4 separate regions of the Homo sapiens genome follow, and all the other regions are linked to region 1. The links come from fine-mapping of genetic effects on gene expression. A gene starts in region 1. Each other region holds a variant in brackets. All regions are shown on one strand. Distances are between the middles of the regions.

Region 1 (5,922 bases):
TTAGACGCTGTCTCAAAAAAAAAAAAAAAAAAAAATTTAGTTTCATGTATAGAAACTATCTTTATTTTTAATGTTTACAGAACTGAGAACTTTTTGGATCTTTTATTTTACCTACTATTCTTCCATGATTAAAACTAAATTAACAAACGAAATAGAAAATGACTGGAGAATTTCAGACATCCAAAATTGATGTAAGACAAGTGATAATTAATTCAAATAATCCTCTTGATAACTACTTTTAATAGCAGCAGTGAGCTATTATAAATGATCATAATGAGAATCATCAATTTTTAGTACTGAAAGAAACAGAAGAGATCTAATATTTTAATCCTCTTATTCTACAGGGATGACGCTAAGGTCAAGGAGACAAAATGACTTTCCCAAAGTGACAATGCTGGAGAGCCCACTATAAAGCTTACAAATCCTAGTTCTAACACAGTCCATAAGTTCTTCTACTATCCAGTCATAAACCTTTTAGAAAATAGGTAATGCTTCACTCTCCCATAGGAAAGATCATATGGCTTTCTCATGGCCTAGCACAATGCCTCACACACTGCAGATACTAGTTTGTTCATTCCTACACCAAAACTTCCTTTAAAGCTAATTTGACATCCTAGTAAAAATATCTTCGCCCGGGCGCGGTGGCTCACGCCTGTAATCCCAGCACTTTGGGAGGCCAAGATGGGCAGATCACCTGAGGTCAGGAGTTCAAGACCAGCCTGGCCAACACAGTGAAACCCCGTCTCTACTAAAAATACAAAAATTAGCGGGGCATGGTGGCGCGCGCCTGTAGTCCCAGCTATTCCGGAGGCTGAGGCAGAACTGCTTGAACCCAGGAGGCGGAGGTGGTGGTGAGCTGAGATCGCACCACTGCACTCCAGCCTGGGCAACAAAGTGAGACTCCATCTCAAAAAAAAAAAAAAAATTCAACCTGAATAGTATAATATGGAAATGACTTGCATACATATTTAAGTGTATACACTTGGATACAATTAGAAGTTACTTGACCAACTGTATATACTTATGTATAAAACTGGGAGATATTTGACCAAACGTTTCTCTGACCTCGACTTACTCTGGTACTACCATTGAACAACTCCAGACCCAGAGAAAATCCACCACACCCAATCCCAGTATTGTCAAATGCAGCCAGACTAATTCTCTGCACAGCTGTCAGATACCAAAAGGATTTAACAGTCAGTTCACCAAAACCATACAAAGCAGTTCACTAAATAATCCAATGCTTGGCCTCACATCAGAGAAACTGTATCATGCATATTAGGCTTGGTCATGTACATTTCCAGGTGAAATGGAAAAACTGAATTTAAGATGCTTCCAATCAAAAAGTTTAAGAAGTCACTCCCATTTTTTTTTTTTTTTTTTTTGTATGTGTGTGTAGGCCTGGACCTGGGGCAGGGGGCTGTGTGCAACCAAGCCTGGTGAGCATTGCTGTGGCCGCTACTCTTGTGCAGCAAGAGGGGACAGTGCAGTGCAGAGCGTTTTCTGACAAAGGCCAAGGGGTCCGGAGTGCAAAAGGACACCTTGGGGCTGGGGCATGGCAGGAGAGGTTACGGGCGCTGAGTGCTTGCAGCCAAGGGGGCTTCGGGGTTGCTGAGAGAGGACGAGCCTTGGGAGCTTGACAGTTCTGCTTACAGTTCAGAGGCTGTAAAACAAATGCCACTGAACACCATTTCACTCTTTAGAACCTGTGTAGTCTTTCTTTTTCTATGTAGAAAGCCATCTAATCGTTTTTGTTTTTGTTTTGCTTTTGTCAACTAACCGTCACTGTAGTTGCCCACTTACCCCCAGCAAAAACACACTCCAAAAGGGGGAGTGGCTCATTATTAAAAGGCTCTTAGCGATTAGGTTGTAGGCTTTGGAAATCACAGAAACAGTTCGTATCACGATGTACCAATTGTTAATCGAATTTAGCTTCCTTCACTTATTAAATACAATCATCACATTTGCAAATGCCCCACTCCCATCTACAACACTAGGGATAAATGCTGTGTCACTGAGAAGAAAAGCAAAGGATTTTTCTGAAACCAAAAGCAAACTGTCAAAGAATGCCAGTAACCTGTCATCGAGCTACTCTATGCCCTCCACTGGCAGCCAGAAATGAGTCTCCCTAAACCCAAGTGTTGTGCTGCCGCTTGGCAGCTTCCGTCTGATGGGAAGCCCCCTCACTGACACAACCCGCCAAGGAAAAGCTGCACGAGCCAGTTTCCTCCTCTACGGCCTGGGGCTGCTTCTCACCATGTCCAAGTGAGCACCGGGACCTTCAGGGTGTCCGCTGCCCGGGGCCGGACTGGCCCTGCCCTCCGGGGTCTTCCGTTCGCTGTTGCGCTTCAGGCCGCTGGCGTCGCCCCGGCCTCTGGCCTCCCGGCGCCGTTGCTGCCGACTCCACAGGTATATGGCACCCGCGCCCAGCAGCAGGGGTGCCCCGACCGCCAGAGCCAGCTGCCATCGCGGCAGCCCCCCCGTGCCCGGGCCCGCAGTCCCGCCGCCGCCCACCCCACTCCCGGAGCTCGGTACAGCGGCTGCGACCACCGCTGCCTCCACAGGTTTAGAGGCGGCCATGACAAGTGTCCTCTGCCACCGCCTCCCTGTCTGTCGCGAGCGCCACAATCACCAAACAGCGTGCGAAGGAAGACCGAGGGAGGGAAGGAAAGCAATGAGCGAGCGAGCACGCTAGGCAGAGAGAGCGGACGACAGAAAAGGGCCAGAGGTCACCGGAAGCCCAGGGCATGCCGGGCCAGACCTGGCCGTCCTTCTCCTCCAGTATCAACCGAAGAGGGAGAGGAGGGGCGGAAATCACTTCCGGGTTAAGGGAAAGCGTGGGTGTGAGTAGGAGTCTTCGGAAACCCTTTTTCTTTCTTTTCGCCCCGCTGCTGTTCGGGAGATGGACTTCTGGAGTCCCCGTCGTAGCTGGTGTTGTCCCCTCTACCTTCAGGAAAGAAGGGCAGATGGCCCTCTTGCCTACTGAAGCCGAGGAGGGGCGCGTATACAGCGGGCTAAGGGCGCTCAAGAGATCCGAGTGGAAGAAAAAGCAGCGGCACAGCACTGGAATGGGCGGGAGTGGCAGAAGAGTTGTGAAGGCTATTGGCTAGCAAGGGTGGTGGGCGGGGCGTAGACCGAGCTACCCAGTTTACTGGTCGATTTCGGATCCAGTTTTCCAGTTATAGCCACGTTGGCACCTCTTGAACCTCTGTGGCCGTTAGCACGGTTTTCTGCCCGCGTGCCCGAGAAACCAACGGATTAGAAGGACTTTTAAAGATGTGTGAGGAAAGAGCTCACCGCTGAAGAAGGCTGCTGCATCACTGAACTTCTTATCACTAACATAGCGAGATTTTAGTTTGGACGAATTTGAGGTTATAGGGGAGATAGCGATGGCAGAAGACTAGGTGGAAATGGCACATCTAGGTTGGCTGCAGTCGAAACGGTTTGAGCGTGGTCGCTGTGGCTCATCGTCGGCACCAATTAACGAAGCGATGACATCTGCGTTGTTAGGGGTTTCTTAAACTGAGTTGGTAGAAATGCGAAGCGTCAGGGTTCCCGCCGGCTTCGAGCCTTTCTTGGCGTATTTGTATCTTGAGCTGATTTCTGCGTCAGCCCACATCTCGCTCTGATCCGCACGCCCCCCGGGTTGTTTTGCAGTAGCAGTCTCAGCCCTCTTCTCGTCTCATTCCCAAATCGTAATTTCAGTTCACAGCTTTTTATCTATAATAGCTTTATCAACTCTTTTTCCGATGCTCTGCACCAGATCTCTTAAAATATAAAATTACCTTGCAAGGTATTGTTTGGAATACACGGTATTTTCATGAAGACAACTATTAATAGAAAAATCAGAGTCCAGAACTATGGTTCTCCATTTCTGGTATACTGGTTTGCAGAAGCCTTACATTAAGATTTCATAAATGATTGTTTTGCTGTTAAGTGCAACAACATCACAGTAGAGCTACATAAAGATTGAAAGGAGATATTTTATCAAGTGGCACCAGAATGGACTGATTAAAATAGAATGGCCTAATTGGAAAGAATTTCAGGATCACCGGTTTCTCCTGCTTCATGTAAGTTCCTATTAGTAAATTGCCTTCAGGCAATAGGGTTTCTTAGCAACAGACTAAAAAAATGGGCTAAAAATAGCAGTGGAATTGAGTTGATCGTTGCAGGCAATAGGCTTTTCTCCCCTCCTGATCCCCCAATCCCCAAAGGCAAATTTTCTGCCCCTTAATATAAGCTCTGCCTTGCCTTTTTCAGAACACAAGTTAGGATTTTTTTTTTTTTCTGAAATTTCAGTTTTGCTGTGGCCTCTTGGAGGATTGTAGAGTGCTAACAATTACAAACTTGATAGGAACTAAAACATATTTGAAGTTTTTTTTTTAAACCTTTTTCTTATTTATTGGAGTAAGCAATACACTGTTACGGTTAAACTCCAAAAGTTACAGAGTTTACTGTGAAAAGTCTTCCTTCAGTCCCTGTCCTCAGCTGCACAGTTCCCCTCTCCAAAGGGAATCGGTGTTATTTTCTTGAAACATTTTTTGGATTAATATTTATCTAAAGGCCTGATTTTGTTTGGCTTTATTTTTAAGGTTGGCATTAGTAAACGAATCTGTTCTGGTTACTTTTATACTTTGATAAACATCTCATTTCCATTCTCTAGCCTATGCTATTCTCTCATTTTCTCCTCCATTTCCTAATTGATGGTACTGTAGAGCCAAATAGAGTGTCGCTTACTGGCTTTGGGACCTTACTGATCTGATGCATGTTTTTCTAATCTGTGAAATGGTGAAAACATCTACCTCTCAGGCTATAGTAAAGATTTAATTAGAGAATATTTAAAGTTCTTTTGATGTTTGTTACAAAGCAATAGATATTTGATGATTAGTTCTCAGTTTTTCTAAATTTTAAAGTAAAGAAGTAAAATACTGCCTTTCATTTCTAAAAAATTAAAGTTCTGTATATGTGAACATAGACATTATCTTTTTCTTGGTAGATTAGTGGAACTCAACTGAAGAAGCTTTCTTCACCTTTGATCTGTATCTTAGGAGGCAGTTAAATGAGATAGTCTAATGGACTAGGTTGTGGAAGACCTGAGTTTTTTTTTTTTTTGAGATGGAGTTTCGCTCTTGTTGCCCAGGCTGGAGTGCAATGGCGCCATCTTGGCTCACTGCAGCCTCTGCCTGCAGGCTTCAAGCAATTCTCCTCCCTCAGCGTCCCAGTAGCTGGGATTATAGGCGGCTGCTACCATGCCAGGCTAATTTTTTGTATATTGGCCAAGCTGGTCTTGAACTCCTGACCTCAGGTGATCTACCTGCCTCGGCCTCCCAAAGTGCTGGGAATACAGGCATAAGCCACCATGCCCAGCTGACCTGAATTCTTATTCTAAATTTTAATACCACTGAGTTGTGTGTGTGACCATGGGCAACTCTGCTTTCTTTATAATGTGAGGAGGGGTGGATTAGATTATTTTTAAGGCTCCTTATTGTTTTAAAATGATGTAATTCTGTCCCTTCAATTGTCATTGCTACATGAAAGGCCTTTCAGATTGCTAGAGTTGGTAAATAGCTGGTTGACTGGTGTCCAAACCTTCCAGCCAGTGCACAAATCTGCTTATATTAAGCATGTACATATAGAACAGCTCTATTCTCTTTCAGCTGTCTGATGTTTTCATTCTGTTTTTCCTTACTGAAAAATTACTGAAAAGAATTGTCTACATCTGTTACTTATTTGGCACCCATTTCATCCAAAATCTGTTGTAATCTAGTTTACAACTTTATAATTAGGCTGAAAGTGCTTTAGAAGTCATAAAATTCATTGTGGTTTTTTTGTGGGTGGGGGAGGTTGGCTGTCACCCACTTTTACTTGATACCACTGATTATTCTCTCCTTGAAATGTTCTTTTCCTTGGCTTCAGGAGAAT
Region 2 (5,922 bases), 56 kb after region 1:
TTTCTCAGATAGTCTTTAATCATCACTCTATTTTCTCTTTCTTATACCATTTTGATAAGAGACCTTCATGACTGCGTTAACATTGTAGAGCGGCTGACACCACTGTGTTAAACAGATGCCTCAATAACTCTCAACTAACACGGCTGAGCAAGCATGACCTTGCTCATGTGACCACCACTCACCACTGCTTAACTTCACCTGATAAGCACTCAGGGGTTTCCCAACATTTCTAGTTCAAACAGGAGAGGAGTAATGATTTTGCTTGTTTATTTTTTAAAACAGAAGGATAAATAGATACGGTGGCCACATTTATCCATGCCATTGTTTTGATAATTCCTTTGAAAGGCACCCTCTGGCCATATAACTAAAGAAGCAACCCCCCCACCCTCCAGTAGGTCCCTATCACTCTGTTTACAGTTATCATTGCACTTATCACTATTGATTATTTTTTCATTTCCTTTTAGGTTTATTGATGACTGTCTGTATCCCTCCACCTAGGTGTAATATCTAGGAAGTAGGTCTATTTAGTGTTATATCTCCTGATCCTACAACAACAGTTTATGTTCAATTAATCAGTGAATAATGTGGAATCCTGGGGACACATGTCGGGGGGTGTTAATCTGGTTGGGCGTCATTCCTTAACAGTTCATTCTTCCCACAGTCCTCACATTAAAATTTAGTGCAAACTCTACTATTAAAGTAATTTAAGGGAGTGAACACAGAAAGCTAAGAATCATTCCATGTGTGATCTCATTTGCCACTTTCCGTTTCAAAAAGCACCAGGGAACTATTAATTTCATTGTGCCATGAAATCACACCCCTCAGTATGTTCAGAGGCAAAGAGTCATAGGCATGTGCAGGTTGTACTTCCTTCCCAGACCATCTGCTGATGTCCAACCCCCTCTATTCTTTTCTTTGTGACCGAAACCTTTAGCAACATCCTTAGGTTTATGCTAATTTATTTCTAGAAACCAAGAGGTGGAAGTCTGCTAAACCATCAGGGCTTTCTCCATGTCTGATTATTAAGAGAAATGTGGAGTGTTGTCAGCTGCTTGTGCATTTTTACCTGTTTCTGATCTTTCCCTTTCAGGGACCTGAAAGCAGAAAGGAGAGAAATGAAAGAGAATGCCTGAGGATGGAGATAAAATCCCGAAAGAAAGTAGAGGAAGAAAGGAGCTCTAGGAAAGAAGAGCATGGAGAAGCACACATGGCTCCCCTGTTTGAAAAAGGGCCTGAATAATACTCTGCTTCTGCCTCATGACATCAGATGCTACTGTTTTGGTTTTTTTCTTTGAGCCCCAATTCACCATTTCAGGATGTGGATGGGGGCGGGGTTGGGGGTAAAAACAGCTATAAAAAGCAACTGCAGATGCTGACTGACTGCAGTGGGCAGGGTATGTAGCTGCTCCAAGATGACTTGCATCATACCCCAATTACTGCTGGCATCTTAGTTGAGAGTATAATCTGCTTGGTTGCCTTTTTATGGGAATAAAGAGAATAAAAGGTATTTTAATAGAATAAAGAAAAATTTGAAAATATAATGGAAGGTATTTAAAGAGCCACCCACATAGCTTCACCAACCCTTCTCACACATCAACTCATAAATCATCTTAAATAAAAGTCATTGGTATGACTCTTGAGTTTACTTTCTTATCCAGAAGTAATTATGTAAGTATGTCTAATGGCCATCATTTAAGGAGAACTGGTAATTAACATGCCAAGTACTATGCTGGATGCTTTAATGCATTACCTAAAATAAGCTTCAGCACTCTGAGGTGGGACCTTGTATTAGTCAGGATTCTCCAGCGAGAAAGAACCAATAGGATAGAGCTAAAGATAGATCCATAGAGATAGAGATAGAGATAAATAGGGATAGAGAATATATGAGAAGGGATTTATTAGGGGAATTGGCTAACATGATTATGGAGGCAGAGAAATCCCAACATAAACTGTCTCCAAGCTGGAGAACCAAGGAAGCTGGTAGTGTGGCTCAGTTCAAGTTCAAAGGCCTCAGAACCAGGGAAGCCAGTAGGGTGGCTTAGTCCAAATTTGAAAGCCTCAGAAACAGGGAAGCTGATTATATAACTTTCAGTTCTAGGTTGAAGGTAGGGTAGGGGAGAGTCACTGGCACAAGTCCCTGACTCCGAAGGCCACATGGAACCTGCAGTTCTAATATCCAAGGCAGGAAAGAAGGGCATCCTAGCTTTGAGGGAGATGGAGAGAGAGAGAGAAAGAGAGAGAGAGACAGAGAGAGAGAGAGAGAGAGAGAGAGGCAGAAAATTCTCCTTTCCTCTGCCTTTTTTATCTATCCAGGTCTTCAGCCAATTGGATGGTGCCTGCCCACAATGGGTGAGGGTGGATCTTCCTTATTCAGTCCACTGATTCAAATGCCAATCTCTTCCAGAATCACTTTAACAGACACATCTGTGCAGAAAGAAATAATGCTTTACCAGCTGTCTGGGTGCCCCTTAATCCAGTCAAGCTGGCACCTAACATTAACCATCACAGACCTATTTTTTTCTTCACTTTCTAGATGAGGAAACAAAGTTTAGAGAGTTCTGTACCTTGTTGGTGTGGTGGCAGAGTTAGGGCCAGAGCCCAGTTCATTCTGATGCCAGAGCTTATGGTCCTAACGTGAGGCAGGATGTTCATTTTCCTCTAGTAGCAGGTTCTGAGATAGTCTGTGTGTGATGTGCATGTGAATGAGTGGATGTGAGTGAGAATAGCAGGAGTGAGGGTAGGTTGCAGTTTTGATTACACGGGTGTAGACTGATTCTCTGAGGTCAGCTTTATGCACTGGGTTTTAACTTTGTGGAACCATACTCTATC[G/A]ATCACTAATTGTTTTCCCCTGAAAGCAAAGATACTGGAGTTCTCTAATGCTCTCTCTGTTTATTCCTCATCTGTCTTAGACTTTCAAATGCCCAAGGGCAGCTTACCCGTTTTGTGAAGAGGAAAATCCCCCAAAAGTACTACTCATAACTAATACTGTAATTGATTGCTTATGCAAGCATTGACTTTGACTTAGTAGAAATAAAAAGGAAAAGGGGAGTGTCAGTTTGTTCTCACACTGCTATGAAGAACTGCCCAAGACTGGGTAACTTATAAAGAAAAGAGGTTTAATTGACTCACAGTTCTGCATGCCTGGGAAGGCCTCAGAAAACTTACAATCATGGTGGAAGGTGAAGGGGAAGCAAAGACCTTCTTCACATGGTATTAGGAAAGAGAGAGCTAGTAAGAGCAGGAAAAACTGCCTTATAAAACCATCAGATCTCATGAGAACTTATTATCATAAGAATAGCATGGCGGAAACCTCCCCCATGATCCTCCCACCTGGTTTCTCCCTTGACAAGGGATTATGAGGTTTACAATTCAAGATGAGATTTGGGTGGGGACACAGGCAAACCATATCATTCCATCCCTGGCCCCTCCCAGATCTCATCTCCTCACATTTCAAAACACAATTATGCTTTCCCAGTAGTCAAAGTCTTAATTCATTCCAGCATTAAACCCAAAAGTCCAAGTCCAAAGTTTCATCTGAGACAAGGTGAGTCCCTTCTACCTATGAGCTGGTAAAATCAAAAGCAAGTTAGTTATTTCCAAGACACAGTGGGGGTACAGGCATTGGGTAAATGCTCCCATTCCAAATGGGAGAAATTGGCCAAAACAAAGGGGCTACAGGTCCCATACAAGTCCAAAATTCAGTGGGGCAGTCATTAAATCTAAAAACCCCAAAACAATCTCCTTTGACTCCATGTCTTACATTCAGGGCACACTGATGCAAAGGGTAGGCTCCCATGGCCTTGGGCAGCTCCATCCCTGTGGCTTTGTAGCCCCTCTGCCCAGCCCTCCATATACCAGCTGCTTTCATGGCTAGTGTTGAGTATCTGCAGCTTTTCCAGGTGCACAGTGCAAGCTGTCAGTGTATCTACCATTCTGGGGTCTGGAGGATGGTAGGCCCTCTTCTCACAGCTCCACTAGGCAGTGCCCCAGTAGGGATTCTCTGTGGGGGCTCCAACCCCACATTTCCCTTCTGCACTGCCCTAGCAGAGATTCTCCATGAGGGCTCTGTCCCTGCAGCACACCTCTGCCTGCACATCCAGGTGTTTCCATACATCTTCTGAAATCTAGGCAGAGGTTCCCAAACCTCATTTCTTGTCTTCTGTGCACCCGCAGAACCAACATCACATGGAAGCTGCCAAGACTTGGGGCTTGCACCTTCTGAAGCAACAGCCTGAGCTGTACCTTGGTCCCTTTTAGACACAGCTGGAGCAGCTGGGATGCAGGGCACCAAATCCAAGGCTGCACACAGCAGGGGAGCCCTGGACTTGGCCCAGGAAACCATTTTTCCTCCTAGGCCCCTGGGTCTGTGATGGGAGGGGCTGCTGTGAAAGTCTCTGACATGCCCTGGAGACATTTTCCCCATTGTCTTGGTAATTAACATTCAGCACCTTGTTACCTGTGCAAATTTCTCTAGCCAGTTTGAATTTCTCCCCAGAAAATGGATTTTTCTTTTTTACCATATTGTCAGGCTGCACATTTTCCAAACTTTTATGCTCTGCTTCCCTTTTAAACATAAGTTCCAATTTCAGATAATGTCTCTCAACTTCAAAGTTCCACAGATCTCTAGGGCAAGGGCAGAATGCCACCAGTTGCTCTGCTAAAGCGTAGCAAGAGTGAACTTTGCTCCAGTTTCCAAAAAGTTCTGCATCTCCATCTGAGACCATCTCAGCCTGGACTTCATTGTCTACACTGCTATCAGCATTTTGGTCAAAACCATTTGACAAGTCTCTAGGAAGTTCCAAACTTTCCCACATTTTCCTGTCTTCTGAGCCCTCCAAACTGTTCCAACCTCTGCCTGTTACCCAGTTTCAAAGTCACTTCCACATTTTTTGGTACCTGTATCGCAGTACCCCACTCTCTGCAGTACCGATTTCCTATATTTGCCCATTCTCACACTGCTATAAAGAGCTGCACAAGGCCAGATGCAGTGGCTCATGCCTGTAATCCCAGCACTTTGGGAGACCGAGGCAGGTGGATCATCTGAGGTCAGGAGTTCAAGACCAGCCTGGCCAACACAGTGAAACTCCATCTCTAATAAAAATACCAAAAATTAGCCAGGTGTGGTGGCAGGCACTTGTAATCCCAGCTACTCGAGAGGTTGAGGCAGGAGAATTGCTTGAACCTGGGAGGCAGAGGTTGCAGTGAGCTGAGATTGCTCCACTGCTCTCCAGCCTGGGTGGCAGAGTGAGACGCCATCTAAAAAAAAAAAAAAAAAAAAAAAAAGAACTGCCCAAGACTGGGTAATTTATAAAGAAAAGAGGTTTAAAAGAGGTTTAATCGACTCACATTTGCACATGGCTGGGGAGGCCTCAAGAAACCTACAATCATGGCAGAAGGCGAAGGGGAAGCAAGGACCTTCTTCACTTGATGGCAGGAAAGAGAGAGCTAGCAAGAGCAGGGAAAATTGCTTTATAAAACCATCAGATCTTGTGAGAATTCATTCACAATCATGAGAACAGCACTGGGGAAACTTTCCCCATGATCCAATCATCTTCCACCGTGCAAACACTGCTCACTGCAGCCTCAACCTCCTGGGTTCAAGTGATCCTGCCACCCTAGTCGCCCCAGTAGCTGGGACCATAGGCATACACCACCACAGCCAGCTAATTAAAAAAAAAGTATTTGTAAGGTGGGGGGGTTTCCCTATGTTGCCCAGGCTGTTCTGAAACTCCTGGGCTCAAGAGATCTTCCTGCTTTGGCCTCTTCAAAGTGCTGAGATTACTGGTGTGAGCCCCCACGCCTAACAGAACAAAAATTTTAAATGTGTTTGTTTACCTTCTCGGAGATAAATATGGTTAATGCCTTGGTGTATGTACTTCCAGAATGCTATTTACGTGTACATGTGCACATGAACGTAAGTGC
Region 3 (5,922 bases), 34 kb after region 1:
GCTGTCCTTAGTGAAAAAACATAATATGAAGTCTCTCATTATTAAACTGACTTGCCTTCTCTCTCCAACATCATATGAATACAAAACTGAAATAAAACAGTTTCCCTGTCATTTATTTATTCTATGGAAGTGCATTTTTAATACTTTTAGTCTGTTTAGCTTTCTAGTCATCATCTCCTTCAGCTTAACATGGTTCTGTTAACATTGTTCTATGTAGTCTGGGGCTCGTGGAAGGGAAGACTGTGCTAAATGAAAGATCTTTGGGAGAAGAAACCGAGTTTATTGGCCCAGGGCTTTTGTAACTCCAGACGGACCTCCACAGTGCTTCTTCTATGCTCCACGGAAGTCACCATATGTACTTGCCCACATGATATACTTTGAAGGATACAGAATAAGTCTCTACCGATGTACACCCAAGATTTTTTCTTTTTTCTTTAAAGTTAAAGTTCTGGAATACATGTGCAGAACGTGCAGGTTTGTTACATGGGTGTACATGTGCCATGGTGGTTTGCTGCACCTACCAACCCGTCATCTAGGTTTTAAGCCCTGCATGCATTAGGTATTTGTCCTAATGCTCTCCCTCTCCTTGCCCTCTACCCTCTGATAGGCCCCAGTGTGTGCGTTGTTCCCCTCCCTATGTCCATGTGTTCTCATTGTTCAACTCCCACTTGTGGGTGAGAACATGTGGTGTTTGGTTTTCTGTTCCTGTGTTAGTTTGCTGAGGGTGATGGCTTCCAGCTTCATCTATGTCCCTGCAAAGGACATGATCTCATTCTTTTTTATGGCTGCATGGTATTCCATGGTGTATATGCACCACATTTTCTTTATCCACTCTATCAGTGATGGGCATTTGGGTTGGTCCTATGTCTTTGCTATAAATAGTGCTGCAATAAACATACATGTGCATGTGTCTTTATAGTAGAATGATTTATATTCCTTTGGGTGTATACCCAGTAATGGGATTGCTGGGTCAAATGGTATTTCTCATTCTAGATCCTTGAGGAATCACCACACTGTCTTCCACAATGGTTGAACTAATTTACTTTCCCCCCAACAGTGTAAAAGTGTTCCTATTTCTCCACAGCCTTGCCAGCATCTATTGTTTCTTGGCTTTTTAATAATTGCCATTCTGACTGGTGTGAGATGGTATCTCATTGTGGTTTTGATTTGCATTTCTGTAATGATCAGTGATGTTGAGCTTTTTTCATATGTTTTTTTGGCCGCATAAATGTCTTCTTTTGAGAAGTGTCTGTTCATATCTTTGCCCACTTTTTGATGGGTTTGTTTGTTTGTTTCTTGTAAATTTGTTTAAGTTCATTGTAGATTCTGGATATTAGACTTTTGTTAGATGAGTAGATTGCAAACATTTTCCCCCATTCCATAGGTTGTCTGTTCACTCTGATGATAGTTTCTTTTGCTGTGCAGAAGCTCTTTAGCTTAATTAGATCCTATTTGTCAATTTTGGCTTCTGTTGCAATTGCTTTTGGTGTTTTCATCATGAAGTATTTGCCCACGCCTATGTCCTGAATGCTACTGCCTAGGTTTTCTTCTAGGGCTGTTATGGTTTTGGGATTTACATTTAAGTCTTTAATCCATCCTGAGTTAATTTTTGTAAAAGGTGTAAGGAAGGGGTCCAGTTTCAGTTTTCTGCATATGGCTGGCCAATTTTCCCAGCACCATTTATTAAATAGAGAATCCTTTCCCCATTGCTTGTTTCTGTCAGATTTGCCAAAGATCAGGTGGTTATATAAGTGTGGTCTTATTTCTGAGTTCTTTATTCTGTTCCACTGGTCTATGTCTCTGTTTTGGTACCTGTTACCTGTTACCATGCTGTTTTGGTTACTGTAGCCTTGTAGTATAGTTTGAAGTCAGGTAGTGTGATGCCTCCTTTTTTTTTTCTTCTTTTTTCTTTTTTTTTGAGTTGAAGTCTCATTCTATTGCCCAGGCTGGAGTGCAGTGGTGAGATCTCGGCTCACTACAACCTCTGCCTCCAGGGTTCGAGGAATGCTCCTGCCTCAGCCTCCTGAGTAGTCAAGACTACAGGCGTGCACCACCATGCCTGGCTAATTTTTGTATTTTTAGTAGAGATGGAATTTCACCATGTTAGCCTGGCTGGTCTTGAACTCCTGACCTCAGGTGATCTGCCCACCTCGGCCTCCCAAAGTGCTGTGATTACAGGTGTGAGCCACTGCACCCGGCTGTCTTTTTTTTTTTTTTTTTAATTAAATTACCTTTCTCCATTGTATATTCTCCCTCCATGCTCTCAATTTACAGTGATGAAAGATATTTGTAATTTTAGTTTTTTATTGTTGATCTACTTTCAGATGGCTGCACTCTCATTCTTATAGTATCTCACTACAGGGCAGGTGGGGCATGGCCCTCTTAGGGGAGTTCTCACAAACCTGGGAGAGAACACATACTATCAAGTGTCATGATTGGCAGTGGCTTCTTGTATTTCAGATGTATTTCAGATGATATTTGAATTTAATTTTCATAGGAGGCAATTCCTTAATCCAAGGAAATGAAACTAATGATAGAAATTCAGGTACCAGTGAGAACTCTATAGGGAGCTTTTAGCATAATGTTCTGTGGACTTTTCTCT[C/G]TTCTTCTAGGTGCTAAGGTGGAGGAATTGCTAGAAAGGCAGTGGAGAGGAGTGGTCAGGAGCAAGTGCTCTGGAGCTGGCCTCCCGTGTTCTTCATTTACTAGCAGCATAACTCTGAGCAAGCTGCTTGAGCTCTCTTTGCCTCCAATTCCCCACATGTAAATGGGATTGGTGATCATAGTACAGACCTCATAAAGGTGCTGTGAATATTCAATAAGTAATGTATATACAGTGCTTTGAACAGTGCCTGGTACCTATTAACTTATTTATTAAAAAAATAATTTTTTTTACACTAAATGCATGCAGTGTATACATTTAGAAAAGAAGAGGGGACTTTATTTCTTGTAAAGCTTATAGCCTGCAAGTTGGCCATCCCACAGCCTGGGAAGCATAGCCTCCAGAAAGACTGGAGACAGGCACTTCAAAGGAGGAGGGGTAGGGGGTAGGAGCTTTATGCTGAACAGATTGGCTAAACTTCCACATGCAACAGTTTATAGGAGGAGCTGTGAATATTCGTGAAGGTGGTTCTGACACAGTTCTGTGGACACAGGAATTTTGAACAAACATACATGTAGCATGTATGGCCCATGTTCACTTTGGGATGGAGACTTAATATTTAAACATATTACAATTAGGCCCTATTCATGAAAAGATCTTCTTAGGACAGGAAGGTGAGTGAGTGTGCAGCCCCCATAAACTGGCTAGAACCAGTCCATGGTTGGTAGTCTTGTCAGGAGAAAGTTATTGAAATCAATCTCTTGTCCAATCAAAACTGTAGTAATGGCTGATGGAACAAGGGAATCAGCTAGTCAGCATCTGATGGAGCTGCAAATTGTTTTAATACTGCTTATGTCAGGGCCGGTGCTTGTTTAGCTGTTAGAGGAAAAGAAAAACCTTGTGGCGGTCAGAATATAGTTTATTCTTTAAGTGTAGGGGTGCACAACTTAACCCTTGCCTGGCATGGCCTTAGGTCCTGTTTATAATTAGGTATCTTATTGCCACAAAGGCTTTGTTCTGTCAGTGTTAGGATCTCTATTTTAACATTAATGCTGGTCAATTGTTGTGTCTAAACCATAAAAGACAGGGAGTACAACGAGGTGCATCTGACCTCCCATCCCGTCATGGCTCAGAACTAAGTTTTTAAGGTTTTTATGGAATCCCCTTGGTGAAGAGGGGGTCTGTTCAGTTGATGAGGGGCTTAGGATTTTATTTTTCGTTTACATACCTAATAAGATGCTTTCCCTCTCTCTTTTCCTTTTCCCCTCCCTCATCTCCTCCCTCTGCATCTCCTCCTCCTCCTCTGTCAGAGGTGTTGACACTTAGAAATTTTTTTCCAGATGCCTTCAGCTAATTACTGCACAAAATTCTAGAGTTTTTCATTTTCTCTTTACTTCATTGTCTTTTATGTTTCTCTTTTATATTACAATGGGAAGATAATTGGTAATTTTATATTGAACATTGGCAGGTAACATATGTTCTGTTATGGACTGAATGTTTGTGCTTCCCCTTCCCCCATTCATATGCTGAAGCCCTAATCTCCAATGTGATGGTATTTGGAAATGGAGCCTTTGGGAGATAATTAGGGTTAGATGAGTTCATGAGGGTGGGGTCCTGGCCTAATGGGATTAATATCCTTAGAAGAAGAGACATCAGAGAGCTTTTTCTTTCTCTCTCTATCCCCACATATGCATTTAAAAAAGCAGTCATGTGAGGTTGCAGTGAGAAGGCAGCCATCTGCAAGCCAGGAAGAGAGCCCTCACCAGGAACTGAATTAGCCAGAACCTAGATCTGGGACTTCCTAGCCTCCAGAACTGTGAGAAACAAATTTCTGTTGCTTAAGCTACTCAGCCTATGGTATTTTGTTATAGCAGCCCAAGCTGACTAATACATTTTCATAACAAGCATCATCACCAGACAGTGGAGAGCTAGTAGGGAAAACATTATTATACATGACCTAATTTAATGTCATTTGGGGTTATGATCTCAGTGGCATATGGTTTATATGGGCTTAGTTTGGCTACTGCAGCTTCGGGATGAGTAAGACAAGTCCTTGAATTTTGCTTTAGGAAAAGATTCCAAGTTCCTGAGGTGTGAAGCGTTATAAGCTCACAGGAGTTTCTTCTTATAGCTCTCCTCTGTTTGGCCACTATATAACTTACGATATGGTGTTGGTGACAGTTTTGCATTGATTTAGTGTGTAATAGTGTGACCAAGCAGGGTCTGTTCATTTCCCCAATTAAAAAAAGTTATTTTACTGATTAGTTTAAAACATTGTTTGGCTTCCCAAAAGGATGTACAGTGCATGGTTACTAAGCTTATCTTTATTATTTCTCAAAGAACTATCATTTTACCAGTTGAATATTTGAATGTTTTCCCTGATAGTGTTTCCAAGTATAGCTAGTCCACTCATTTGTAGTCCTCTTGGCTCTGATGATAGCATTAGACTATGTTATAAAATACTCTTCATATAAAATTCTTTCAGATGAATTCCTAAAGACCTATAGATTATTATTACTAACTTTATAATAGAATTCTGTTTAAATTGGTACATGGCTAAAAGTCACATTTACAGGCAGTTTCACATGGAAATAGAATAAAGTTGTTGCTGTTGTTAAAGATAAAGGATTTAATACTGCTAATCCAGGAACCAGATGTCACATGCTTAGGCATGTCACTTTATCTCTCTAATAAAGTCACTAGTCACATAAGTCTTAGGCAAGACTTAGCCTCACTAAGATTCATTTTCCTCATATGTAAAAGGGGAAGAATCACTCCCTTGTTGACTTTATTCTGAAGTTAGCTATCAAGGACCTGGCCCCAGAGTGCCAGGTACATACTGTGCACTAGGACTCAATATGGGTCTTACTATGCCAGCACCTGGATCTTTCTCATTATGTCTCATCTTGCTGTTAACCATTGACTACAGGGTGGGAGGGATACAATTGAAGGGTGATTGCAATTACAGCCAGAATAAAGAACATCGAGTAGTTAAGCTCTTGAGGTGAATATATTACATAACCAATTTCCCCCTCCCCAACTTTCCTTTTAGGTTTATTGTCACTTAAAGAAAAACAACTTTCTTTTTTTGGATCTGTTTTATGTTCAAAGCAATATTGAGCAGAAGGTACAGAGATTTTCCATAGCCCCCATACTCCCAGATATGCATACCTCTCCCATGATTAACCTTCCTGACTAGAGCGGTATATTTGTTTCAATTGATGAACCCATGCTGACACATCATTATCACCCAGAGTCCATAGTTTACACATTAGGATTCACTCTTCCTGTTGTACATTTTATGGGTTTGTACAAATGTATAA
Region 4 (5,922 bases), 44 kb after region 1:
TGACTTTTCCCTTTAGCTTAGTGATTTGGGGGCCCCAAGATTATTTTTCTTTCACATTTCCCTCCTTTTTTTAAAAATAAAATCTTTTGGAATAAGTATTTTAGAAGAAAATGAGTCTCTGGTCTCAGGTTTCATCTGATCTCTCACAGATAGGATGGTTTATTCCTAGACAGGTAGGTCCTGAGTTGTTATGCAGGCTCATTTTTAGCAAGTTGTGAAGTCTCATGTCCTATGAAGAGAAAATAGGAGGAGGAAGGAAGAAAAACAACAACAAACAAAAGAACAATTCTGGAAAATCAATATTGGTCACATTACTCTGAAGTCCATACATCAGTAGGCAGGTATTAGTGGCTTATGTATGTAAATAGGTTGCTGTTATTTTCTTCTGAAGTTTAAGTTGTCTAGCTTCAGTTTGCAGGGCTTTATGAAAGCACAGCCTGGATTTTGATGACTCCAAATGAGAAAAACATGGGGAAAAAAAGAAGGAAAAAATGGAAAACAATGCTTTGAAGACTTGGAGCCAAGAAAATACAGAATTCGGTCCAAAATGTAGAAAATAATAAAAATTGAAAAACATTAGGCAAGACTAGAATCTAACAACAGGTGTGCTATAGTTTTTGAAACAATTTTTCTCTCTCCAGTTTCCCATTTTTACCAAAGACAAATCATGGTAGGACTGCTGTGCTTTATTATACTTGGCCTAATCATTTGTATACAGTTCAACAAGAATAATTATTTTTTACATAGGCTTTTAAATTGGCTTTGATGGAACTTTGTTCCATAGAAGGAATCTCAGATAAGACTTTTTTAAAAGCTGAGCTGAGTTGGGCGATCCTCTCCTCTTGAGGTTCTAAGATAAAACCTGAGGCTCTTAGGCCTATAAGAACGTTACATTCTTTACTTACCACAGGTCAGGAACCCCATACAGGAATTGCGTAGACAAGTTTGCGGCCAGTTTTCCCCAGGGATTTTAGTGGCTTTGTAAGTCAACTTTGATTCCTTAAAGGAAAGCACACCATTCCAGTCAAAGCCTTGGTAAAATAAGAAGTTTCTCCAATTGTGTCCTGTTGTAAATGAAAACAGATTCTTATTGCACTTAAGCAAATAACTGTATTGCCATAAGTTAAGAATACTCCCAAACAGTTTCCAAATTCTGGAGAAATCAGGTAGAGAGAAAACAAATATGCTCCAAATTTTGTTCATAGGAGTATACTTTACTCAGTTGTTAAAACCTATTGTAAATAGCTTAAAACTTTTCTTGACTCTGAAAAACAAAACAAAGGCTCAGCAGTGTTTTAGGCAAAAAGTTAAAAAGATTACTTCAGACTTCTATAATTAGTTTAGTTGATGAGTTAATTCCTGCTCTGCTTGATAGTCATAAACATTTCAGCTCTCCATGAGTCTTGAAGTTTTTCTTCTATTCTGATGTCACTGTCTCCAAAGTTATCAGAAACCTCATTCAAGAGCACCTGTTAAGAGTTTTATAGCTGATTATAAAACCACCTCCTAAAGAGGATCAACACAAGACAATAATTGTCCATGGATGACAAAAAAGTTGTCATAAAGACACAATTGACAAGGAAAATTGTTACTTATGTGGCACACAATAATTTAACCTAACAATTATAATTATTACTTATAATGTCCATTAAGTCATATCAGAATTATAGGAGTTTCCCATACTTCTGGAACACATACCAATAACATATTTATAGAAATACAGCCCTAAGAAAACCAAACACCATTTTATATTTGATAATGCTTCCTGTATAATTGTAATACCAACTAAGCCAATTATGTCATTTTTGGACTTTAGGGAACCTCATGTCTTAAAGGACTAATTAGGTCAGGAAAAGACATAATTTATTATTTGATTTGGAAAATTTGTCAAATATCCAAGGTTTAAAACACTTGATATCACAAAATAGGATCACAGGTCATTGTGAAATAAGTCATTTCATTTAACCAAAGTAATAACTCAAAGGATTTTTTTAAAACGGTGAAATCTTCATTCTTTGAGATAGGAGACTTAATTTTCCAAACAGTAAGCCCTAATAAAAACTGCATGAAGCCAATTAAATTTGTTTTTCAAAATTTTATAAACAATCTATAAAATTTTAATCTTGTCTGTAAGATATACCTTCCATAAGCCTTTGAAAACCTTTATAACCTTTATTAAGGCGTCAGCTAATGCTTCAAGAAAACCATGTTGATTTGACATAGGGGCCCATGTGCTGGTCTTGCATCAGTGTGCCTTTGACATTGATGATTAATTTATAGGGGAACTGGCTAGGTGCAGTGGCTCATGCCTGTAATCCCAGCACTTTGGGAGGCTGAGGTGGGCAGATCATTTGAGGTCAGGAGTTTGAGACCAGTCTGACCAACATGGTGAAACCCCATCTCTACTAAAACACAAAAATGAGGCAGGCATGGTGGTGGGCACCAGTCATCTCAGCTACTTGGGAAACTGAGGCAGGAGAATTGCTTGAACCCAGAGGCAGAGGTTGCAGTGAGCTGAGCTTGCACCACTGCACTCCAGCCTGGTAGACAGGGCGAGACTCTCTCTCAAAAAAAGTATAGAGAAACTGAACTTATTTTATCTCTCAAAATTAGCCCTTACAATTTCACACACCCACCTCTTCCTTGACAGTCCCCAGGCCTTGAGGAGTTGAATAGCTTTAATTTCTGGCCCTGGGTCTCAGGAATGCAGTTT[A/G]TTTTGATTGGCATTTTCTACAGGGCCTGAAGATAGGGCTTTAATTGCTGTCAGTGTTTAACATTTATCAGGACTTGGTTTCCTTTTTAGACCCAGGAGTCAAAGCCTGTAACTCAATGTCACAAGTATTTAAAAGTGTATACAGAGAGATACACGATGTAAGAACCTTAATTAAAAAACATTTTTAATCTCAGTTTATTTTAGCAAACCAAAACCTAATAGTATTATGACAACTGGATCATATCAAAGTTTTTGGTTTTTAAAAAAATATATTTAGAAAACCCCATCGTCTCAGCCCAAAATCTCCTTAAGCTGATAAGCAACTTCAGCAAAGTCTCAGTATACAAAATCTATGTGCAAAAATCATGAAGATTCCCATATGCCATTAACAGACAAACAGAGAGACAAATCATGAGTGAACTACCATTCACAATTGCTATAAAGAGAATAAAATACCTAGGAATCCAACTTACAAGGGATGTGAAGGACCTCTTCAAGGAAAACTACAAACCACTGCTCAATGAAATAAAAGAGGACACAAACAAATGGAAGAATATTCCATGCTTATGGATAGGAAGAATCAATATCGTAAAAATGGCCATACTGCTCAAAGTAGTTTATAGATTCAATGCCATCCCCATCAGGCTACCAAAGACTTTCTTCACAGAATTGGAAAAAACTGCTTTAAAGTTCATATGGAACCAAAAAAGAGCCTGCATTGCCAAGACAATCCTAAGCAAAAAGAACAAAGCTGGAGGCATCACACTACCTGACTTCAAACTATACTACAAGGCCATAGTAACCAAAACAGCATGGTACTTGTACCAAAACAGATATATAGACCAATGGAACAGAACAGAGGCCTCCGAAATAACACCACACATCTACAACCATCTGATCTTTGACAAATCTGACAAAAACAAGAAATGGAGAAAGGATTCCCTATTTAAGAAATGGTGCTGGGAAAACTGGCTAGCCATATGTAGAAAGCTGAAACTGGATCCCTTCCTGACACCTTATACAAAAATTAATTCAAGATGGATTAAAGACTTAAATATTAGACCTAAAACCATAAAAACCCTAGAAGAAAACCTAGGCAATACCATTCAGGACATAGTTATGGGCAAGGACTTCATAACTAAAACACCAAAAGCAATGGCAACAAAAGCCAAAATAGACAAATGGGATCTAATTAAACTAAAGAGCTTCTGCACAGCAAAAGAAACTACCATCAGAGTGAAGAGGCAACCTACAGAATGGGAGAAAATTTTTGTAATCTACCCATCTGACAAAGGGCTAATACCCAGAATCTACAAGGAACTTAAACAAATTTACAAGGAAAAATCCAACAACCCCATCAAAAAGTGGGCAAAGGATATGAGCAGACACTTCTCTAAAGAAGACATATATGCAACCAACAGACACATGAAAAAATGCTCATCATCACTGGTCATCAGAGAAATGCAAATCAAAACCACAATGAGATACCATCTCACACCAGTTAGAACGGCAATCATTAAAAAGTCAGGAAACAACAGGTGCTGGAAAGGATGTGGAGATAGGAATGCTTTTACACTGTTGGTGGGAGTGTAAATTAGTTCAACCATTGTGGAAGACAGGGCGGCAATTCCTCAAGGATCTAGAACTAGAAATACCATTTGACCCAGCGATCCCATTACTGGGTATATACCTGAGGGATTATAAATCCTGCTACTATAAAGACACATGTACACATATATTTATTATGGCACTATTCACAGTAGCAAAGACTTGGAACCAACCCAAATGTCCATCAGCGATAGACTGGATTAAGAAAATGTGGCACATATACACAATGGAATACTATGCAGCCATAAAAAAGGATGAGTTTATGTCCTTTGCAGGGACATGGATGAAGTTGGAAATCATCATTCTCAGCAAACTATCACAAGGACAGAAAACCAAACACCGCATGTTCTCACTCATAGGTGGGAATTGAACAATGAGATCACTTGGACACAGTGGGGGGAACATCACATACTGGGGCCTGTTGGAGGGTGGGAGGCTGGGGGAGGGATAGCATTAGGAGAAATACCTAATGTAAATGGTGAGTTGATGGGTGCAGCAAACCAACCTGACACATGTATACCTATGTATCAAACCTGCATGTTGTGCACATGTACCCTAGAACTTAAAGTATAATTTAAAAAAAAAGAATTAAAAAAAAAATCCCTTTATTATGACTTACACAGACCTTTCACAACATGCTTAGATTTTCTGGTTTGTCCTGAGCATCCCTCTTCCTTAAACAACCAGTCATTTTACTCTAGGACTAAATTTACCATACAAGAGTCTTTCTCCTGTGAAATTATTTCTCTTTAAGCTTTCTTACAAGAAAATTCCCTCTTTATTTTGATAACTTTTTTTTACATCGCTCTTGTTTCCTGGTTCCTGTTACCTTGTTTTATATATGAGCTTTAAATAAGCTTTGAATTAGACAAAAATTGTTCTTCTTTTTTAAAATGACACACCTTTTCTTTAAGAAAGAATGTTTTCCTACAAATATATTTTTAACTGGAAAATACCCAAATAATGAAATCTCTATTCTTTAGATTAACTTCAGATTCTAAATTATGATGAGTTTGTCTACAAGTATTTATCCCATTACTTTTACCTAATTATTTTATTTTAATTGTTTACCTAATTTATGAAAACTGTGATAGTCATCATTTAACGTTATGGAACCACCATTGTAAGATTATAACTGAGACAGTGAAAAAGATTAGACTTCACTGACTCCATCTTGCTTTTAACCTCCTTTTAAGCTGTTCTTGTTTATTCCTGGGCATAGGCTGAACTAACTTTGGGAGAAACTTAGTTTATAATTTACTTTGAAACAAAGACAATAACAGTCCTTTGCCAAAACAAACCTTACTGCCTGTGGACTAGACTGCCTAAAACCACAAGATTAGAAGTTATGCTAATCTTACTAAATTCAAAATGTAGCTATTTTTATTAAACCAATATCAATGTCATATTTATTAAATATTACATGAGTAAAGATCATTCTGTTTTTGGCTGGGTTTATAGTTCTGTAACCCCTATGTCAAATTTTGTCACCTTATAGTATTTGGCAGGGATAAGCATAAAATTACTTGATTAATAAATGCAAACAAATATGTATGCTGGCAGTTCTTAAAACATTTATAATATTATTTTACCAATAATTT

What was found. PIP is the estimated chance that this variant, and not a neighbour inherited with it, causes the effect. A credible set is the group of variants that fine-mapping cannot tell apart.
Region 2: its variant is the best candidate, but not a certain one, in a credible set for the expression of LNP1 in visceral fat (GTEx, PIP 0.72).
Region 3: its variant is the best candidate, but not a certain one, in a credible set for the expression of LNP1 in spinal cord (GTEx, PIP 0.59).
Region 4: its variant is the best candidate, but not a certain one, in a credible set for the expression of LNP1 in thyroid (GTEx, PIP 0.86).

What each region holds. Positions count from the first base shown.
Region 1 is chr3:100,398,370-100,404,291 of GRCh38, forward strand. LNP1 (leukemia NUP98 fusion partner 1) reads left to right here and starts at 3,170. Exons shown (of 4, transcript NM_001085451.2): 1 at 3,170-4,070. TOMM70 (translocase of outer mitochondrial membrane 70) reads right to left here and starts at 2,720. Exons shown (of 12, transcript NM_014820.5): 1 at 2,257-2,720. The coding sequence starts at 2,580. RefSeq lists enhancers at 1,138-2,057, 2,739-2,848, 2,899-2,948, 2,959-3,048 and silencers at 2,419-2,498, 3,109-3,188.
Region 2 is chr3:100,454,687-100,460,608 of GRCh38, forward strand. It overlaps LNP1 (leukemia NUP98 fusion partner 1), which reads left to right. Exons shown (of 4, transcript NM_001085451.2): 4 at 1,091-1,633. The coding sequence ends at 1,240. Among named protein-coding and RNA genes, the nearest start is that of TMEM45A, 35 kb to the right of the region's middle. The variant G/A (reference allele first, on the strand shown) is at 2,830.
Region 3 is chr3:100,432,629-100,438,550 of GRCh38, forward strand. The region is part of intron 2 of LNP1 (leukemia NUP98 fusion partner 1); the gene reads left to right. Among named protein-coding and RNA genes, the nearest start is that of LNP1, 34 kb to the left of the region's middle. The variant C/G (reference allele first, on the strand shown) is at 2,603.
Region 4 is chr3:100,442,704-100,448,625 of GRCh38, forward strand. The region is part of intron 2 of LNP1 (leukemia NUP98 fusion partner 1); the gene reads left to right. Among named protein-coding and RNA genes, the nearest start is that of LNP1, 44 kb to the left of the region's middle. The variant A/G (reference allele first, on the strand shown) is at 2,714.